Linked DNA regions of Homo sapiens: regions 1, 3 and 4 are each linked to region 2. A link means that fine-mapping ties the variant in region 2 to the plasma level of a protein whose gene starts in the linked region. Region 2 holds a variant in brackets. A gene starts in each other region. All regions are shown on their forward strands.

Region 1 (5,147 bases), not on the chromosome of region 2:
TGGTGGGCGCCTGTAATCCCAGCTACTCAGGTGGCTGAGGCAGGGAGAATTGCTTGAACCTGGGAGGCAAAGGTTGCAGTGAGCCGAGATTGCTCCACTGCAATCCAGCCTGGGTGACAGAGCAAGACTCCATCTCAGAAAAAATACAAAAATTAGGGGGGCATGGTGGCGCACACCTGTAATCCCAGCTACTCAGGAGGCTGAGGCAAGAGAATCGCTTGGACCCAGAAGGCAGAGGTTGCAGTGAGCCAAAATCATGCCACTGCACTCCAACCTGGGCAACAGAGCAAGACTCTGTCTCAAAAAAAAAAAAAAAAAAAAAAGAGAAAGTGCTTGCACATTGGAGCTTGCCAACTACTGCTGCTCTAGATCTATGGGGCCACTATAAGAATAGAGCTCAAGCTAGCCTGCTAGAAAGGCCACATAGATGAGAACTAAGGCATGCACCCCAACAGAAAGCCTGCTAATCAGCAGACATGTGAGCAAGGCCCATCCTAAATTAACCATTTACCCCAGATGAGACCTAAGAAGAACCACCCAGCTTAACTCAGCCCAAATTGCCAACCCAAAGAATTGTGAACTAATAAACCGTTGTTGCTTAAAGTCACTAAACTTTGGGGTAGTTTGTTATGCAGCAAAAGCTAACTGATACAGTCCCTTCCAACTCTGAAATATTTTTAGTATGACTTACCTCCATTTTTTAAGGGTGGGAGCTCAGCTGTCTTCAACTCAAAGTCACTATTAGTAGGATAGCCAACAAAGTGCTTCTTCAGGGTCCATGTCTTAGTACGAACCATCCTGAAGCTCCTAGAACACAGTAAATATGTAGTCAACTGCCATGAAGTGACTGCATTCTAACAGTTCTCTAGCCGTCAAACTGAGACCAGACAGCACAATTACAATATCCTCAAATCCCATCATTATCATATCATGCCAACCACATTCATTTAACATTTACTATGTTTCTGGTGCTGTGCTAAGCACTTCATATAGATTACCTCATTTTATCCTTATAACTTCCCTATAAGATAGACATTAGTATCATTGCCAGTGTACGGATGAGGAAACTGAGGTTTAAAGAAATCTTCAAGACAAGGAAAAAATATAAAACAACAAAGAAATTCTTCCCAGCCACTGCTAGGCTAGAGTTTCTCTACGGCACTGAACAGTTACCGGAAGTGCGAATATTCCATTCCGTTTCTCATCTCACATGGAGTGAATTCTAAGAAAAAGCATCAAACACAAAGAACCCAATAGATAGAAGTCCATGCACCTCTTTCAGATGGAAACAGCCACGCATTTCAAGGCAGTCTCAGAACTCCTGAAAACCACCGGAGGGCGCCGCTGCTCCGCCCCATTTTCAGGTGCGTTTTTTTTTTTTTTAAATACTTTTTTTTCTCTCTTTTCTTGTAGAGAGGAGCCTCACTGTGTTGCCTAGGCGATCCGCCCGCCTCGGTCTCCCAAAGTGCTGGGATTACAGGTGTGAACCACTTGCACTCAGCCATCGGGTGCGAATTTTCTTTGGCCCAGTAGGGATTTGAGTTTAAACTCCACACCAAACCGATTTTGAGCTGAAACGCTGCACCAAAGCAAGGGAAGATGATGAAGGCTGCCCCGAGCTGGGGGTTCAGGATGTTCTGCTTGGACTGAACTCTGCCGAATCACTTGGGACCTGCGCCTTCCCGCGGGTGCATCCGCTACAAACAATCCAGTTACGAAACCATTTGGAGCTGCCAGTGATCTCCCCAGCTCCCCTACCGGTGCCGCGGGAGGGGACACGGTGACCTGGAGGGAGCACTCCCGCATTGCGAGGGAGCCAGGGGGGCGGTCTGATCTGCAGCCCGGGGTTGTTCCTTCTTTTCTTTTTTTAAAATTAAGACTTTTTTTGTGACGGAGTCTCGCTCTGTCGCCCAGGCTGAAGTGCAATGGCGCGATCTCAGCTCACTGCAACCTCCGTCTCCCGGGTTCAAGCGGTTCTCCTGTCTCAGCCTCCTGAGTAGCTGGGATTACAGGCGCCCGCCACCACGCCCAGCTAATTTTTGTACTTTTAGTAGAGACGGGGTTTCCCCATGTTGGCCAGACTGGTCTAGAACTCCTGAGCTCAAATGATTCGCCCGCCTCGACCTTCCATAGTGCTGGGATTACAGGCGTGAGCCACCGCGCCAGGCCCTACGTATCATTTTTACGGTGAGACATTTGCAGTTTACTCTGTTATTTCGAAATACACATTATTGGCTCTAGTCACTCTGCTGTGCAACAGATCTCAGAACCTACTCCTCTCGTCTCTGAACTTCGTACCCTTTGGCCAACAAGCCCCCATTCCCCCCCGAACCCGCTCCCAGCCTCTGGCAACCATCATTCTAGTCGTTATTTCTATGAGTTCAACTTCTTTAGAGTTCACACATCTTTGTCCCTTTCCCCAAAAAAGCAACCGCTGGGCTTCCAAACTCGCTACAAGTCCAGAAGCCCTCCTGGAAAGGGTCTGGCCGCAGAGGGGCCAGGTCCCGGGAAAGTCTCGCCCGCCCGAGGAGGGGGCCTGGCGCGGCGCCCGGCCTTTGCCCGCTCGCCCTTTGCTCCCACCCTCGCCTCCCGCCGCCCGCCGCCCGCTTGCCCATTCCCGAATCCCCACCCCGATCTTTCTTCTTCTACCCTCCCCCAGTTGTGCAGTCCAGCAAGTTCCCTGGCCAGCCCCCTCCCGGGTGCAGGAAGCTACCGGGTGTCCCGGGTTGTAACCAAGCTTTCCTATTCCCTCCGGCGCGCGGCTCCAAGCTCTCCAAGGAACTGCGGGGGCGGGAGGCGTCGGGACGTCGGCTCCCAAGATCCTCCGAGTGCAAGACCCAGCGGTCATTTCGACGTAAGGGGAGGAGGTCTAAGAGCAAACCTCCTCCACTGGGGCGTCTAGAAACTTGGCAGGAAGAAAGCAAGGGGGTTAGAGGAGGGAGAAAAGGGAAGGAAAGAAAGCAGGAGGTCTACTTACAGGAGCCCGAAGGTTCCACTGCCTGGGGAAGGCGGCTGGGACTGCGCAGCCGGGCGCCCGGGGTCCGACTTATGACAGGTCCCAAGAGAGGGTGGGGCCACCCCAGGGCGGGGCTGCTTCTTTAGGGTGAGAGCCCGGCCCCGAAAGGGTCACAGGAGGAAAACCAGGGTCCGGGAAATCTGAGTGCGTTTGTGTGTGTGTGTGCGCGTATCTCTGTGTGCCTATGTGCATGTGCGCGCGCGTATGTGTGCATGTGTGCGTGTGTGTGCGTGCGCGCCCGCGCGCCCGTGTGTGTGCGTGTAGGGGGTTAGGGACTCCTGATAGGAAAATTCCTAACAGAGCTTTGTCCAGCTGACACTGGACCTCCGCCTGGGGTCCTAAGTTGGAGCCCGGCGGAAATATGCCCCGTGGGGGAACCAACCGTGGCATCTGCCAAGCAGGCCGGAAGGGTCCAAAGGCAGGGCCTGGGGCGGCCGCAGCCCTAATAAGCCCCCGGTGCTGGCTCCGATCCCTGGGCTCCCCGTCAGCCCTGCCGCTTGCCCGCAGTGCAAGCTTTCGCCCAGGGCTGCGGTGCAGACACCCTGCCTGTCTGTCCCCAGTCCGCCTGCTGAACACCTACTCGCCTTCCACCAGCCAATTCAAGGTCACCTCTGTGAACCCTTGCCAGACTCCCCCAGGCAGGAGTGAGCACTCTTGCCACTGAGGCACCCCACCCATCACACCCTAGCAAACATCAGGCCTTGACCTGGCTTCTGCAAGGAGAGGTGGTCTCAGGCAGGGGTTGAACGTGAAGCTAAGTCGTTGGTATTAGACGACTGCAGGTTCGAAGCCTGCACCTGCCACTTACTAGTGGTGTAGCTTTCAAAGACTTACTTACCTTCTCCTTGCCTCACTCAGTTCAGCCATCTGCAAGATGGGGATAAGAAGAATGCCTAACTTCCAGTCATTGTGAAGATTCAATGTCTTTAATTTATTTATTTAATTTTAATTATTTTGAGGTCTTGCTCTGTCACCCAGGCTGGAGTGCAATGGTGGGCATCATAGCTCATTGCAGCCTTGAACTCCTGGACTCAGGTGATCCTCCTTCAGCCTCCCTAGAAGCTGGGATTACAGGCCCACCACCACACCTGGCTCAATGTCTCTCCTTGTAAGGATACCCGCCATATTGGATTAGAGCCCCACTTGTCAGCCTCCGTTTAACTTAAACACGTCTTTGAAGGCCTTGTCTTCAAATACTGTCAAATGGATTAGGGCTCACTAATATGGCCTCATGTAACCTTAATTACCTCTTTAAAGGCCCTATCTACAAATACAGTTACATTCTGAGTACTGGGACTTGGGGATTTTAACACATGAAATTGGGGAAGACACAGTTCAGCCCATAACAGAGTGTGTGGACCAAGCGTGGTGGACGCATGCCACAGGATATACACAGCATCAGAAGCACTGGGTTCCATGTACATAAAGCAACTTGGATGGACCCTAAAAACACAATGCCGAGAGTTGAATTCTTCACACTAATCAGAGTTGGTGGCACTTTATCCCCACTGGTCTGCCAAATTCTTTCTTTCTCACTCTCTCCCTTCTCATTAATTTATGTAACTTAATATAAAACAAAACTCCATTCCCAGGCTGGGTGCTGTGGCTCATGCCTGTAATCCTAGCACTTTTGGAGTCTGAGACAAAAGGACCACTTGAGGCCAAGCATTCAAGACTTGCGTGGGCAACATAGCTTTAACCTGGGAGGTGGAGGCTGCAGCGAGCTGCGATCGTGGCACTGCACTCTAGACTGGGTGTCTAAGTGAGATCCCGTCTCAAAAGAAAACCAAAAAAACTCAATTTCCTGCTTTTCTCCTCCTACTATAGGTAACTACTGTGATGTATTTGATTTGCATACAGTTTTTTTTTCCATGTTCTTACATAATGTGCACTGTGGTCATATACATTTAATTTATAGAAACGGTATTGGGTTACATATCGCATTCTGCTTCTCTCTTTTTTTTTTCTTTTAAGATAACTTGTTACAGAATCACTGTTTCTTTTGGATATTAGAAGTGTTAATAAAATTGCAGGCATAAAAAGTCTTTGCAAAGTAAGAATAAGAGAAAAAAGTGCCAGAAACACAGAGTGGCTCACATATTTACTCACTTGTCCTTAAATTGAAGATACA
Region 2 (5,151 bases):
TGTGGATAACTGAGGCCAAGGTGATGCAGACCTCACCTGCCTGTTGGTCTTTGGAAGCCTCATTTTGTAGGTGACCCGAGGCTCCAACTGTCCTCAGCATCTTCTGTTTGCATTTGTGACAATATCCGTTCTGTGGCCCTTGGGTCTTGGGAAAACATGGCGCAATCATAAATGAGTTAAATGCTATCTGATCATAAGCCAGAGGGCCTGTTTTCATTTTCAAAACTCCGTGTGTCAGTGGCTGTAATGCAATGTCCAGCAATGTCTTGAGCAAGTGACCGGCAGGGGACAGAGGATGCTGTTTACTCAAGATAGCCCCATCACGCAAAAGCAGCTTGCCTAACCGGGTTTGTAAGCGATTGTTACGAGACCACCGTTGCAACAGGGATTGCCCTGGGTGATGGTCCCAGGAAGGGGCTGGTCCCCTCAGGCCAGATTTGGGGCTATCTCCCTCTTTCTGGAGCCCTCTGGGACCCTGGGCCTCTGGCAAAGAGCAGAGAAAAAGCATTGTTGGGAAATCCCACTCAGATGTGGAGTTGTCCTCCTAAGGAAGGGTGCCCTGGGGAGAAGGGCTTCATGCTACCCTGAGAGGAGACAGCCTCCTGTGTCAGAGGAGGCTGGAGGGGTGGCTAGGGACCTGCAGAGGCGGAGGATGGTGTGGTATGGTTGCTGAGCAAGAACATGGTGACTCGGGGTTTTGAAAGGCTTGGTCTGGGTAATGGTTCTGAGTTTGGGAGTGGTCATTGTTTCTCCAGCACCAAAATTATGGTGGGTGGGTGATCACATGCATATGGCTGACCCCTATGGGTATTTTCCTGAAGGTCAAACTATTAAATCCTTTATCCTTTCACCCCTTCCCTCTTGGCGAAGATCTGAGTTACAACCACCGTCACCACCACCACCACCACCACCACCATCACCATCACCATCATCACCACCACCATATCCACCTCTTTATCTGAACAGCTTCTTAAGATTTAAAAGCTCTTTCACATGGTTTCTCAATTAATCCTCACAACAACTCCAAGAGATAAGCATCACGACACCCATTTTATACCTGGTGAAATCGAGACTCAGAGACGTTAAATGTCTGACGCAAGACTCTTGGTCAGTGTGTCCCATAGAAATATAAAGTGGGCCAGAAATGAGAGCGGCATACATAATTTGACATTTTCTGGTAGTCATAATTAAAAAGTAAAATTAATTTCAATAATATATTTTAACCTAATAGATCAAAATTGTTATCATTTCAATATGCAATCAATGTAAAAATTATTGAACAATTTTACGTACTTTTTCATATAAAGTCTTTGAAGTCTGGGGTATATTTTGTACTTATAGTACATCTCAATCTGGACTAGTCAATTTTAAGTGCTCAGCAGCCATAGGTGGCTAGTGGCTGCTGTGTTGGAAGACACAATTCTAGATTTTTTTTTTATTATTATACTTTTAAGTTCTAGGGTACATGTGCACAAGGTGCAGGTTTGTTACTTATGTATACATGTGCCATGTTGGTGTGCTGCACCCATTAACTCATCATTTACATTAGGTATATCTCCTAATGCTATCCCTCCCCCCTCCCCCCACCCCACGACATGCCCTGGTGTGTAATGTTCCCCACCCTGTGTCCAAGTGTTCTCATTGTTCAGTTCCCACCTATGAGTGAGAACATGTGGTGTTTGGTTTTCTGTCCTTGTGATAGTTTGCTCAGAATGATGGTTTCCAGCTTCATCCATGTCCCTACAAAGGACATGAACTCATCCTTTTTTATGGCTGCATAGTATTCCATGGTGTATATGTGCCACATTTTCTTAATCCAGTCTATCATTGATGGACATTTGGGTTGGTTCCAAGTCTTTGCTATTGTGAATAGTGCCTCAATAAACATACATGTGCATGTGTCTTTATAGTAGCATGATTTATAATCCTTTGGGTATATACCCAGTAATGGGATCGCTGGGTCAAATGGTATTTCTAGTTCTAGATCCTTGAGGAATCACCACACTGTCTTCCACAATGGCTGAACTAGTTTACACTCCCACCAACGGTGTAAAAGCATTCCTACACAATTCTAGATATTTTTGTCCTTCCTCAAAGCTTCTCTGCTCTTCCATAATATGCATCATATTTTCTCCATTTCTAAAAGGGGGTGTTTGGGCCAAGGAGTTTCCAAGGTCTTTTTCAGTTCTAAGGTTTTCTGATTCCAGAGCAAAGCCAGAATTCTGCCCAGGCTCCGCTTAGCCCCATGACACAGAGGGTCCCAGACATATGGAGAAAGAACTGTGAAAACGTCTTCACACTAGAAGTTTGTGTTTCTTTTCCTATGGTCTACAGGGGCAAACAGAGACAGATACACAGACATGGACAGGAGGACTCCTAGGCTCCCAGATACAGTTGCATGACCCACAGGAACAAAGACACAGACACAGCGCCCAGGGGAGTGTTCTGAGCATGTTCTTTGTGTTCTTGCATGTGTAACCCTGATGTTGAGGGGAGTCGTCCTGCCCCTTAAGGGCCAGATGAAGTTGCCACAGACACCCCAAACCCCAACTCCAATCCATCTCCTCCATTTGTTTCTTTTATATGTAGATATGCACGTGTGTGTGTGCACACAAGTCACCCTCTATGTGTGGATATTGGGTCACTGCAGAAGAAGTGTTTCTGGTCCGGGCACGGTGGCTCACGCCTGCAATCCCAGTACTTTGAGAGGCCCAGGTGGGTGGGTCACGAGGTCAGGAGATCGAGACCATCCTGGCTAACACGGTGAAACCCGTCTCTACTAAAAATACAAAAAATTAGCCGGGCACGGTGGTGGGCGCCTGTAGTCCCAGCTACTCGGGAGGCTGAGGCAGAAGAATGGTGTGGACCTGGGAGGCAGAGCTTGCAGTGAACTGAGATAGCACCATTGTACTCCAGCTCAGGCGACAGAGTGAGACTCCGTCTCAAAGAAGAAAAAAAAAAAAAAAAGTGTTTCTGACCATGGGCTGTTGTTAAGCAAAGTTTGACTGTCCCAGCTCAAGAGACCTCATGGCCTCTGGCCAGCCACCTCTGTGACTGTCTCCTCAGCCACTTTGATACTGCCTCCATTTCTCCAACTGTCAAATGATGTTTTTGTTCCTCACAGCCAATCTCGCAAATCCTGCATTTCTCTCTCTCTCTCTTTTTTTTTTTTTTTTTTGAGATGGAGTCTCGCCATGTCACCCAGGCAGGAGTGCAGTGGC[G/A]CAATCTTGGCTCACTGCGGCCTCTGCCTCCTGGGTTCAAGCGACTCTCCTGCCTCAGCCTCCCAAGTAGCTGGGATTACACGTGCCTGCCACTATGCCCGGCTAATTTTTTGTTTTTAGTAGAGACTGGGTTTCACCATGTTGGCCAGGCTGATCTCAGGTGATCCGCCCACCTCAGCCTCCCGAAGTGCTAGGCTTACAGGCATGAGCCACCACACCTGGCCCAAACCCTTCATTTCTTTGCTCTTGACACTACAGAGCTCTCCCAGGATTTTTTTTTTTTTCCTTCCACGTGCAACCTCATAGATCTTTCTTTGGTCTCTGTATGTCACAAATCCCCAGGAACTTCAAACTTTAGGAGATGCTCCTGAAGATTTTCTGGGCTTTTTCCTTTCCCTCCCACTGCACAGCTCCTCCCTGATTACTGTAGACCCTCCAGGTCCCTCCCAGTCTCATCTTGCCTCCTGAGTAGCTATCAAGGGATTTATAATCACTTCAGAGTACCTTGCCAAAGGTCATGCAACTCTGCCCTGGTCTGCTCTGGTCTTCCTCCCCTCTCTTCAAGGCTTCCTGGTCTGGGTCTGTGCCCGGCGGCCAGTTCTCCATCAGCAGGGTAGAGCTGTGTGTGGAGTAGGTTCCTCCCTGGGTAACAGGTAATGTGGACAGATAGAAGGCCAGGATCTGGATGCAAAGGGCAGAGTGACTGGTGGTGAGACACTGTGCTGTAGAGTGGTGGGAGGGGCTGGTCCGAGCCTTTCGCCCATTCCACCCCAAGGGCAGCGGCAACTCATGCTATCTTCAGGGCAGGCTGTTAATTAATTATGAGGGACTGTGGCCTTAGAAAGAAGGGTGCTGGGTCTGAGTGTCTGGACACTTTCTCCAGTTCCCTTGCACCCATCTAAGTGAGGGAGCCTGGCTCAGCCACTTCAGAGTCATTGGTCACCCTGATTAGCTCACCCTGGATGGAGGATGTTCCCTGAGTGTCTCTTCTTGGCCCCTGGAGGCATTGCCTAACACCATGTTTGCCAAATGATCCACATGGTCCAGTGTTTTGAAATGAAGTTTTTAAAGAGAAGGCAAAGGCAATTTTTTTGGAGGGGGTGGGTGGTTGTTTTGTTTTCTTTGTTTTCCCCATAGAGCAGAATTTCTTTGCATCATGAGAGAGTTGTGTGATCTCAGGTAGATAAATCTGTCCTAACTCAGAAAGGAGAAGTGTGACTAGACTCTCACCGGCCTTCAGGAGACGTCAGTTCTCTTCCCAAAGTAATTGCATGATGGTGAAAGTGGTTTCTGAAGCTCAGTTTATGAAGTGGAGAGGGCGAGGGAAGAGGCTACTGGGTCCTGAATGGTGAGGACTTGTAAAAGGGCAGCGGCTAATAGAATAAATGCTTCAACCAGCATTAGGATTAGGGGTGGGTGCACACAGTGGATGCTGGCGTTAGGGTGGGTTGTTCTTGGGGGTGTAGGGAGTGGGAGAGTGTTACATGGGGCAATGGTATTACACAGTGGTGTTCAGGTGGGACTTGGGGTGTATGTGTGTTTTGTTTGGGGTGTAGGATTAGGATGTGAATAGGGTATTAAGAGTGCATTCAGGCCAGGTGTGGTGGCATAGCCTGTAATTCCAGCACTTTGGGAGGCCGAGGCAGGCAGATTGCTTGAGTCCAGAAGTTCGAGACCAGCCTAAGCAACATGGCAAAACCCCATGTCTACAAAAAAAAAAAAAAAAAAAAAAAAATAGCTGTGCGTGGTGGCATGCACCTGTGGTTCCAGCTAAGGTGGGAGGATTGCTTGAGCCTGGGGAGGTAGAGGCTGTGGTGAGATGTGATCATGTCACTGCACTCCAACCTGGGTAACAGAGTGAGACCCTGTCTCAAGAAAAAAAAAAAAAGTGCATTCAGCAGCAAGCAATAGAAAACCCAGCCCCCAGAAG
Region 3 (5,137 bases), not on the chromosome of region 2:
GACTCTATCAATAATTATCTCTGAAATATTGTGACATTTCCATTTTTTCTGAATAAAATAAAATACCTGGTTTGACGTTGGTCACTCCTGGCCCAATACTTTCCACAATACCTGCAGCCTCATGGCCAACGATCACTGGGAAAGCTAGGCCCTCAAATTTAGAATCGATAACAGTGGCATCAGTATGGCACAGAGAGGTAGCAATGATCTACAAGGCAATCACAGACTTTAATTGTGTTTCTGCAACTATATTATTGGGCTGGATGTTACATATAAGATTAGGCTTGATATCATTTTAAAACTTTATAAGACTTCTAGAACTCAATAAAAGAATCACCTTTTGAAAAAAGAACCAATAAAAATATACTGGGTTAGATTATTTTCCTCTTATAATGCATCTTTGTTTTCTACCTTTTGCTGTTGTCAGAAAATCATAAAAGAGATAGGATTGGCAATTATTGCCTCCAGGAGAGGAAAAAATCAAAGGTAATAGGGCTTATTGAAATGAAGTTGAGGTAATACACCTTTTACAGTTGAGAGAACAATATCAAATCAAGGATTGTCTGAATTAATTACCAATGTATACCTATATTCTTCTTTAAGGTTCTGTCAGTGAGAATGTCCCATTCACTCTCATGTACAGACTCTTAATGTGGGGGTCCTCAAGGAAAATATAAGCCTGGTCAGCTTGGGAAAAATGGGGAAATTGTCCAAACTTGCCATCAGTGATCTCACTCCATTCCATGCACTCTCTTCTCCCTGTGACCTACTCCTGTCCCTTCCTCTGGATACCCAGGACCCTTCGGCTGCCTAGGGCAGCACGTCAGGTTTTTTCTTCTGTCTTGTTTTCGATCAAATTGTCTATCTTCCTTTTAATAACACTTTCAAATAATTAGCAATTGGAAAGCAAAAAGAAAACCTAACTAATTCAAATCCAAAGTGAATTCCTTTGTCTGATTCTTAGGGTAAATGATTAATGTTAAGATCAATTAAATTTTAAGCCCATTATTTGAAAATTACTAAAATAATGGATGATTTATTCCTTTTTGGGATAATGCCTGTTTTTGACTGAATCTAAAAATACAGCTTCCCTGTACTAGAAACTCCAAGGCCTCTGAATCATAGCACAGAGGATTGACCTGACAGAAGCCAGGTCTCCACTTGGGGCCCTGTCTGTTCCCACCCAAGGAAAGTCTCCACTTACCTGAATGCGAACTTCATGAGCCTTGGGGGGAGCTACTTCAACCTCTTCAATGCAAAGGGGCTTGCCTGCTTCCCAGGCGATGGCTGCTTTGCATTTAATAACCTGAAAGAGAGAAAGAAAAGGAAGAGGGAGATAGAGATAGAGATTTTGACAGGGTTGGGGGTAGGAGAGAGGAGATCATGAGAAAAAATTAGAATATATTGATACTGTAATTTCATGACAAAGAGTTAAAGAGTTTGTAGCTGGATCTTATAGATATTATTTTAAAGACAAGGGATCTTAAAGAAAAATAAGAAGTTAAATTCTACATTATAGTCATTACATTTTTTATTTCTTGAAAAAAAAACAGGTGTATTAAAGTTTACCTTGATATAATGTCTCAAGTTTTTCCCTCTATAACAGAGAGAATAGATTTATGGAGTTTGAATAAGGTAGATGGCCTATAAAAATCTATTGAGTGAACTGTTTGAAATCACCTCTGAATTACCTGAGTCAGATAATTGCTGGAGAATAGATGTGTTTTACATCTCTGCAACTCGAAGTGTGGTCCTCGGACAAGCATTTATTCACATCACTTGGGAATTTGTTAGAGATGAAAGCCCTGCCTCAAATCCACTAAATCAAAATCTGCATTTGAACAATATCCCCAGAGAATTCATTAAAAGTCTGAGAAATGAGGCTTACATCATTATTAAATTTATCTGTAGGATATAAATTAAATAAAAATTTCATCTAATTGTAAGAATTTGGGTAAAGATGAATGAACAGAAATTAAATATTTAGGATTCTATAACCCCAATTTTTTCTAGCCTCAAATTATATTTTTAATTTCAAATATAAGCAACATTGAAAGAAAGTAGAAAGAAACAAACCTATAATCTTCTGTTCTAACACTACTATGCTTACATTTGGTATACTTTTCCCAAAGTCTTTGACCACATTAATGTATATTTTTCAATAGTTACATAATTTTGAATTATGTTTTTGAATATTATTTATTTTGTTTCAAATGAAGTATATATTAATTAACAGGAAGTTTCAAAATGCCAAGGCCTATCAAGTTTTTAAAGACAAAAAATAGAATAAGATTCATCTGTAAGCTCATCACCCACTTTATGCTTTTGATGCAGATTCTTCGAGTATCCCCAAATAAGATACATTGTCCATAGTATTTTGTAATATACTTTTTCTACTATTAATATACTGTGAACATTTTCCCATATTCTCCTGCAACATTATTTGTAACATATGCATATTATATTTTATGGTTACAGCACAGTTACTTAAATCTCTCTTCTTTTGGCCATTTAAATAATATTAATATTAACTGAACACCCTTCTAATAAACATTTTGGCAATCCACAGTTAATTTCCCTAGAATAAATTCCTGGCATAGGGGTCACTCATATCCTTTTGATCAACTGTAAGTCACTGCTTCCTGAGTTCCTGAAGGAAGCTCCTTTTAGCCAAACATACAAGGACACAGAAAAGCACAAACTGAACAAAGATACAGCTTACTTGCTTACTTTGCCCTTGGTGCCCATTTTTCTTTGGGAAACTGTGTTGGAAGTTTCTTTCTGAGTTAAGAAAGCTTCAAACTCCTACCCAGGGAGTTCCGTGTCCTATAATGAGCTGTCTTTGAATAAATACCATTCATGTTGCTTAATTCTCCAATCACTTCCTTTTCTCCTTTGTTGCTGTAATTCACAGCCCTGCCGGCCTCTTACCACATCATTTGTACTATTGGACTTCAGCTGCAAACCTCATTGCTCCCAGTGAGCTCCAAGATTTTTTAAATTCTTTTTTCTTTTATTGAAAAATATAAAATAATAGAGAAAAGCCCATTAAACATATAAAGATGAATTAACAAATAATTATGAAGTAAAGGAAATTTCTACTCCTCAGAATCGCCCATTTAACTTACCTGTTCTTCTCCTTCACAACCCTGATAATCACTTCCTTGCATATTTAGTGGTTTACTACCTATTTAAGCTTCTCTATCCAATAGTTTAATCTAGCAAAGCCTTTTTATGAATGGAATCATAGTGTATGTATTGTTTCATGTCTTTTTTCTCCCCTCTACTCTATGTGAGAATCATTCACATTGCCTGTGGCTGTAGCTTATTTTCATTACTCTAGAATATTCCAGTGTATGAATTGAACATAATTTATTCATCCATTTTCCTTTTTGCTGTTTTTTTTCCTCTTTGCTTATGATGAATTAGTGGTTACATACAAATTCTTTTCATGTACTTGGTTGCACATATGCTTGAGTTGCCTTAAAGAAAATTCAGAGCTGATATTCAGCCAGTACCCACTATGAAGGCCATGCCAATTATCAAAATATTGAAGTATTTTTATTCAGCTTGGTAAAAAGTCACTATCCCAAATCCCCAAGTTCCCCTTCAACTCTGTTGCAGCCCTGGGGGCCCCTATTTAGTCACTGCTAAGGAGCTACTCTTTTTGTCCCACCTGATGTGTGAGTCCATCAACCAGCCCTGATGGTTCTGGGTCTCTGGCTGTCCCCCTAAAACAGAGTAGTCCCTGGAACCCCAGTAGATAAATACCTAGTGTCCATCTGACCTCCTGTGGCTGTGGCCTCCAGTGCTGTGGGTCAGAACTCCCCTGGAGTCACATGTATATGGCCATTTGTGAGAAATGGAGTTTCCTTTCTGTACTGGTTGTTAAATATTTTTTGACTAGGAGTGGAATTAAAGTCTTCAACTTTAATAGGCAAGGCCAAGGAATTTCACAGAATGGCTTCACCTACCAGCAGCAGTGTATGAGAGTCCTCGTTGCTCCACATCCTCACCCATGCTTGGAATTGGCAGACTTTAAAAATCTTCTTAATCTGGTCGTGTGTAAAGATATCTAATTCTGTTTTTAATTTGTATTGATCTGATTATTAATAAGGATAAGCACCAGTCCTGTACTGGAGTCAGCTCATACTGATTTTGTTGTGCTTATTCTATTAACTACTGAGAGATGTTTAGAAATCATTATGATTACTCTAATTATCATTACACGTTGTATGTGTGTACTGAAGTATCATAGGTACTTCACAAATATGTACAATTCTTTCTGTACATATTAAAATTAAAAATAAAAATGAATAAATAACAATAAAATTATTTTAAATAATAACTAAAAATAAAAAGAAACAAAAATACATCATTATTATGAGTTTGTTAATTTCTGAGAGTACTTTTTTTTACTTTACATATCTTGAAGCTTGATATTACGTGCATGCAAGTATTCTGTGTTCCATGTGTTTTAAGAAATTTAATGACATTTTTACTATCTTTCCCTGGCAGTGTGTTTTCATTATCTACATTATTTCTTTTAATAGTCCCCTAGTATTCCACCATCTCTTAAATATTTCAGTTGTTCTATTAAACTTTTAGAAAGCGTAATTTATACTCGTTTCCACTTTTTCACTAACCACATTTCACTCAACTTGTTTGATTTCCATCTCCTTGTTCTATTGAAACTGTTTTCCCCAATGCAATGCATGAGTTTTTTTTAGTTTGCTCTGATTGGAACATCTACTGTGGCCAACTAACCCCTTATATTTCCTTAAGGTGTGTCTCCAGGTTCCTATCTTGCATCCCCACTCTTTCTATTTGGATATGGTCTTTTCCCTTTTTGAATCTCTGTAGCACTCGTGTTTGCATGACTCTTCAGGCTTATACATAAATAGGCAAATGAAGCAAAGTAAGTTTTGCTTCATTTTGTCTCATGTTCTGTTACTTGTGCCTTTTTTGACAACCTGTTTCCTACCTGTAGCCTCCTTAACTGTAGAGATTGTATTTTATTTACATTTCATATCCTGAAGAGTATACTTCAGAGCCCCGAAAAAATACTAGGTGATTACTAAATGCTGGTCAAATTGAATAATGACCTTGGAAACACAATTGGAATTAACACTCTTTT
Region 4 (5,134 bases), not on the chromosome of region 2:
AGGGCTCCATGGGAAGGGGTGGGACCGGAATTTCGACGCCTTGGGATAGGAAGAGGAGGGCTGAGGTAATGAAAACAATTTTTTTTTATTTTTATTTTTTGAGACATGGTCTCGCTCTGTCACCCAGGCTGGAATGCAGCGGCGCGATCTCGGCTCGCTGCAGCCTCGACCTCCCAGGCTCAGGTGATTCTCCCGCCTCAGCCTCCCAGGTAGTTGGGACTACAAGCGTGCATAACTCCGCCAGGATAATTTTTTGTATTTATTGTAGAGACGGGGTTTCGCCATGTTGCCCAGGCTGATCTTGAACTCCTGACCTCAGGTGATCATCCCGCCTCAGCCTCTCACAGTGCTGGGATTACAGGCGTGAGCCACCGCACCTGGCTAATAGCTATTTATTGAAAGTACTGTGATAAGCATTTTAGATTCATTGTATCATTTTAAATTTACAGGGCAACTCATTGAGGTTAAAATCATTCTATCTCCTTTAGAAACTTCAAAACTGATCTTAGTTCAAGAAAGAAGTTACTATTCAGTGATCACCGAGGCTCTAACAAGTGGAGCCTAGATTCGAAACCAAACCCTGTGACTTCAACACCCAAACATTTACGTTCTTACGTTTTACTGTACAGCCTTCCTCCTGGATAAATCAGATTAAAATTTTGAAGACATGTATATAGCTTGTCAGGGTAGTACAGTTATTAATTCTGTGGTTACCACATTCTTTTATATCTCAAGACTCCCAGCCCCAGGATCTAAGTCATAGCTCTTGATTATGGCCCACCCCCAGTAGGGAGCTGAACTTACTACTTCTGATATGAAAGAAGCCAGAGTAGTTGTTTCTTCCAAGTCACTCACATCTGAGATGGCCCTCAAACCCTCCTTGGTGGTCTCCGGCTGAGAGATGTTTGCGTCTTTCTGATCTTGGTAATACTGGATCAACTGCTGAACCCCAGACCTTAATGCAGGTTTAAGTGCAGCACTGATCGCTAGACCCATAGGCCCCCCTGACATCCCAGCCATGGTCATCAGAAGGTCATATCCCAGATCTATGGCCCCATCTCGGCCTCGTTCCCTGGCCTTGCCCAGGCAGTTTTGAGTAGCATAATACAAAGCTGTGCCCAGGTTGTAGAAGGTTCCCACTCCTGGCAGCAGCTGGACTACATTGTGCACAGCTTGCTCCTTCTCATTCTCACAGTCCTCTGTCGGGAGGGAGCGCCCGACCCTTCCTGTGCTTTGCTGCTCCCTGGCTAACAGCTGCAGAGCAGAGGCCAGGGCTTCCACTGACACGTTCCTCTCTGTGCTTCTGCCTTTCTGGAGCCCTCGAAGATGCTGGATGAGGACCTGTGTAGCATTCACACCACCCTGGCGGTAGAGCTGTAGCTGTAGAGCCCAAACATCAGCCTGACAACCAGCTTCCTCCAGGGCATTCCTTAGAGCCAGGCTTACCAAGAACTTGGGTAGAGGGGCCATGTGGCTGAAACCAGGCAGTGACTTTGGGTGCAGAAATTGGCAGGACAAGGGGTCTGAGGAGGGTGTCTGGGATTCCAAGGACAAGGGAAAGTGCATCAAGACATTTGTCTGCTTTCCATATGAAGTGGCATCCACAGGGTGCAGCAGGAGGTAGCAAAGTAGCAGCTCAACTGGTATCATGATGAGTCTGAGGCCACGCATGTCTGGAGCAGAGTACCCTAGAAAGGGGAGAAATCCGAAACATACAAACCATTTCCCTAAGGGCGATGGTGAGCCCAAGACTCAGTTAGGGGGACACCTCATACATCACCTGCTTCCAAGCTTTTGTACTTTCTTTTTAGAGACAGGGTCTTGCTCTGTTGCCCAGACTAGAGTGCAGTGATGGGATCACAAATCACTGCTGCCTTGAATTCCTGGGCTCGAGGGATCCTCCTGCCTCAGCCTCCCAAGCAGCTGGGACTACAGGTGCGTGACACCATGCCCAGCTAATTTTTAAATTTTTTGTAGAGACGTGGTTTTGCCATCTGGCCCAGCCTAGTTCTGAACTTTGGGCTCAAGTGATCCTTCCACCTCCGCCTCCCAAAGTGATAGGCTTCCAGATGTGAGCCACCGCGCCTGGCCCCAAGCTTCTGTTCTTTTTAGGTAAAGGCCTAGGAAATAGGAAATGCACCCCAGTTGCTCCCACTTGGTCTCCCCCATTTACAGGTCACCAGGGACTTCTGTTTTATTTCCACCCATATATAGGGACCCCAAATTACCACACAGTCCAGTCATTGAGAAGTGAGACTGCCTTGGTAGGTTTGATCGCTTCCTGATCCTGTTCTGCCTAGTTCTGTGTCCCATGAGGAAAGGAGATATTTGCTTTCCCCTATGATCAGTGAAGGATGTAATCTCTGCAAATATTTGCCCATTTATACTGGCTGCTCAAACCTTGTGCCCCTTGTCACACACTCAACCTCTATGCCTACAGTCCTGTTCTTTGGCATTTCCTGTATGTCCCTGCCACATTCCCACTCTAAGCTCATGATAGGAGCCAGGGAAATTCAGAATTAGGAAAGATGAGATGTTTGTGATACTCTCATTTCTCTTCATTTTAAAAATTAAATTAGCGGCTGAGCATGGTGGCTCACGCCTGTAATCCCAGCACTTTGGGAGGCCAAGGCGGGCGGATCACAAGGTCAGGAGTTCGAGACCAGCCTGGCCAATATGGTGAAACCCTGTCTCTACTAAAAAAAAAAAAATATATATATATATATATATATATATACACCCAGGCGTGGTGGTGGGCGTCTGTAGTCCCAGCTACTCAGGAGGCTGAGGCAGGAGAATTGCTTGAACCCGGGAGGTGGAGGTTGCAGTAAGCCAAGATCGCACTACTGCACTCCAGCCTGGGTGACAGAGTGAGACTCCGTCTTAAAAAAAAAAAAGGAGGGGAGCTGACACCTACTAAGTGGAGAGGGGCAAGGCTAACACTGGTCACATATGTGTTTAAGGGAAGAGGTGAAATAAAGAGCATTCATCTGTCCTAAGTGGTCTCCAACATTTCTAACTACTTACTGTGTGCCATCCTTGAATACAGTCCTGGGAAAGGAGACTCATTACTTATGTGATATTGAATAGCTGAAATGAGCCGGGATCAATTCCTGGATCATTTTCCTCACAAAGCACTTCAGAATAGCTGTGGAACATTTGATAGATTATATTGTCACTGTCCATGGACAATTTAAATGATCTTGAGAGCTTCTTCAACTTTTTGCCTAATTCTTCAATATGCTCCCAAGACTCATACCTGCAGTTCTTGGTGATGTGGACACCCAAAACTTTGAACTGTGACACCAAGCATCATGGGAGATGGTTTCTCAGCAAACTCAATCACCATCTGAGCTACCTGGTAGGCCAGCTACCCCAGTGGGTATATTTGCCACCATCCATACATTTCCCAGGATGGGCAGCTGGGTGCTGGGTTTATTCACACTTCCCTAAGGGACTACTAGATTCGTCACAATGATGTTGGTATTGCCTTCCTCCCCATTGAACTTTTTGACTCTCACGGATGAGGGTTTCAGTGGTATCCTTTCCTCGCATCTGAAACTGCAGAACATGGGCCTCAGTTGGGCAGCCCACCTCCTCCAAGGGCACCCTCAGAGCTAAGTTGGACAGGTACTCAGGCAGAGGGGCTAGGGAGGGGGCTGTGTGTAAGAGATCTTGGCAGATCCTGGGATCTGGGAGAGGAATCTGGCTCTCCATGTTCTCCAAATAATGGAGAGCATGTTTGATGGATGCCCAGTCTCTGTTAAAGATGGCTGGAGGGTCAGAGTCTCATTCTGAGCATTTCTTGGAAAGGCAGACACCAGGGACAGCAGGACACAGCAAAGCAGCAGCACAGCTTGGACCATGGGGGGACAGCAGAGCAGCCCTGCTGGAAGGAAGCAGTGCTCAGGTTGGGAAGTGGAGAAAGGCTCAGGACAAAGAGACACCAAGACTGGCCAGAGCTAGAAAGTGTCTTAGCTCTTGGAAACTTCGGTTGCCCTGAGCACACCTCATCTTCACTCTTAAAGGATGTGGGTGATCCTCCTATTTTGAGGAGAAACAAGTCAGAGGAAAAAAACAGTCCAAACATCTCATTTGCTTTGGTATCTTCATGACCTGAATTACTATTATTGTTGTTGTTGCTGTTTTTAATCTGCCCTTTCCCAGAATCACAAGGAAACCAGAAAGTTGATGGCTTCCAAAACAGTGAAGGACAAAACATTTGCAAATATTTATGCATCTCTTCCCAGCCCAGACTTTGTCCTTCTCACCTTTGACCCATACTGACAAACTGACCTTTCCCCTTTTAGGCCCTGCAGTCCTGTCCCATATCTTTTTTTTTTTTTCTTTTTCTTTTTCTTTTCCTTTTTTTTTCTGGAGACACAGTCTCACTCTGTTGCCCAGGGTAGAGTGCAGTGGCACGATCACAGCTCACTGCAACCTCCACATCCCGGGTTCAAGCGATTCTTGTGTCTCAGTCTCCCTAGTAGTTGGGATTACAGGCACGCACCACCATGCCTGGCAAATTTTTGTTTTGTTTTGTTTTCTGGAGACAGTCTCACTCTGTTGCTCAGGCTGGAATGCAATGGCGTGATCTTGGCTCACTGCAACCTCCACTTCCCAGGTTCAAGAGATTCTCTTGCCTCAGCCTCCCGAGTAGCTGGGACTACAGGTGTGCGCCACCACGCCTAGCTAATGTTTTTGTATTTTTAGTAGAGATGGAGTTTCACCATGTCAGTCAGGCTGGTCTCAAACTCCTGACCTCGAATGATCTGCCTGCCTCGGCCTCCCAAAGTGTTGGGATTACAGGCGTGAGCCACGGCACCCAGTGACATATCTTTTCTATCCTAAGGTTTTACCCTAAACCTATATTTGAGCTGAGGAAAAGGTCCTCCGTATCTTCTTGAGGGGAGAAAGGGTAAGGCAGAATAGCTGGTGATCTCTGGGACCCCTAAACCATTTTTCTTTTCTTTTTTTTTCTGAGACGGAGTTTCGCTCTTGTTGACCAGGCTGGAGTGCAATGGCGCGATCTCAGCTCACTGCAACCTCCGCCTCCCAGGTTCAAGTGATTCTCCTGCCTCAGCCTCCCAAGTAGCTGGGATTACAGGCGTGTGCCACCATTCCCGGCTAATTT

Which allele goes with the higher level. Alleles are on the strand shown, and positions count from the first base shown. The strength of an association depends on the size of the effect and on how common the allele is.
In carriers of allele G in region 2, the plasma level of the protein whose gene starts at base 3,022 in region 1 tends to be higher than with A alone (weak association).
With allele A in place of G in region 2, the plasma level of the protein whose gene starts at base 2,823 in region 3 is lower (weak association).
In carriers of allele G in region 2, the plasma level of the protein whose gene starts at base 2,356 in region 4 tends to be lower than with A alone (weak association).

The links. A credible set is the group of variants that fine-mapping cannot tell apart. PIP is the posterior inclusion probability: the model's chance that the variant is causal. The UK Biobank Pharma Proteomics Project read protein levels with antibody pairs (Olink). The fine-mapping took linkage between variants from a reference panel, not from the people measured, so its PIPs are less certain.
Region 1: it holds the start of PTGR1, and the variant in region 2 is the best candidate, but not a certain one, in a credible set for the plasma level of the PTGR1 protein (UK Biobank, PIP 0.90).
Region 3: ADH4 starts here. The variant in region 2 is the best candidate, but not a certain one, in a credible set for the plasma level of the ADH4 protein (UK Biobank, PIP 0.72).
Region 4: it holds the start of APOF, and the variant in region 2 is the best candidate, but not a certain one, in a credible set for the plasma level of the APOF protein (UK Biobank, PIP 0.86).

The regions. Positions count from the first base shown.
Region 1 is chr9:111,596,626-111,601,772 of GRCh38, forward strand. It overlaps PTGR1 (prostaglandin reductase 1), which reads right to left and starts at 3,022. Exons shown (of 10, transcript NM_001146108.2): 1 at 2,978-3,022; 2 at 692-807. The coding sequence starts at 797. RefSeq lists an enhancer at 2,873-3,445.
Region 2 is chr8:125,491,231-125,496,381 of GRCh38, forward strand. All of the region lies in intron 2 of TRIB1AL (TRIB1 associated lncRNA), which reads left to right. Among named protein-coding and RNA genes, the nearest start is that of LINC02964, 26 kb to the right of the region's middle. The variant G/A (reference allele first, on the strand shown) is at 3,222.
Region 3 is chr4:99,141,475-99,146,611 of GRCh38, forward strand. It overlaps ADH4 (alcohol dehydrogenase 4 (class II), pi polypeptide), which reads right to left and starts at 2,823. Exons shown (of 9, transcript NM_000670.5): 1 at 2,731-2,823; 2 at 1,205-1,306; 3 at 67-208. The coding sequence starts at 2,748. All of the region lies in intron 2 of LOC100507053 (a long non-coding RNA gene), which reads left to right. RefSeq lists a promoter at 2,795-3,117.
Region 4 is chr12:56,360,502-56,365,635 of GRCh38, forward strand. It overlaps APOF (apolipoprotein F), which reads right to left and starts at 2,356. Exons shown (of 2, transcript NM_001638.4): 1 at 2,229-2,356; 2 at 67-1,688. The coding sequence starts at 2,244. The coding sequence ends at 724. RefSeq lists an enhancer at 1-88.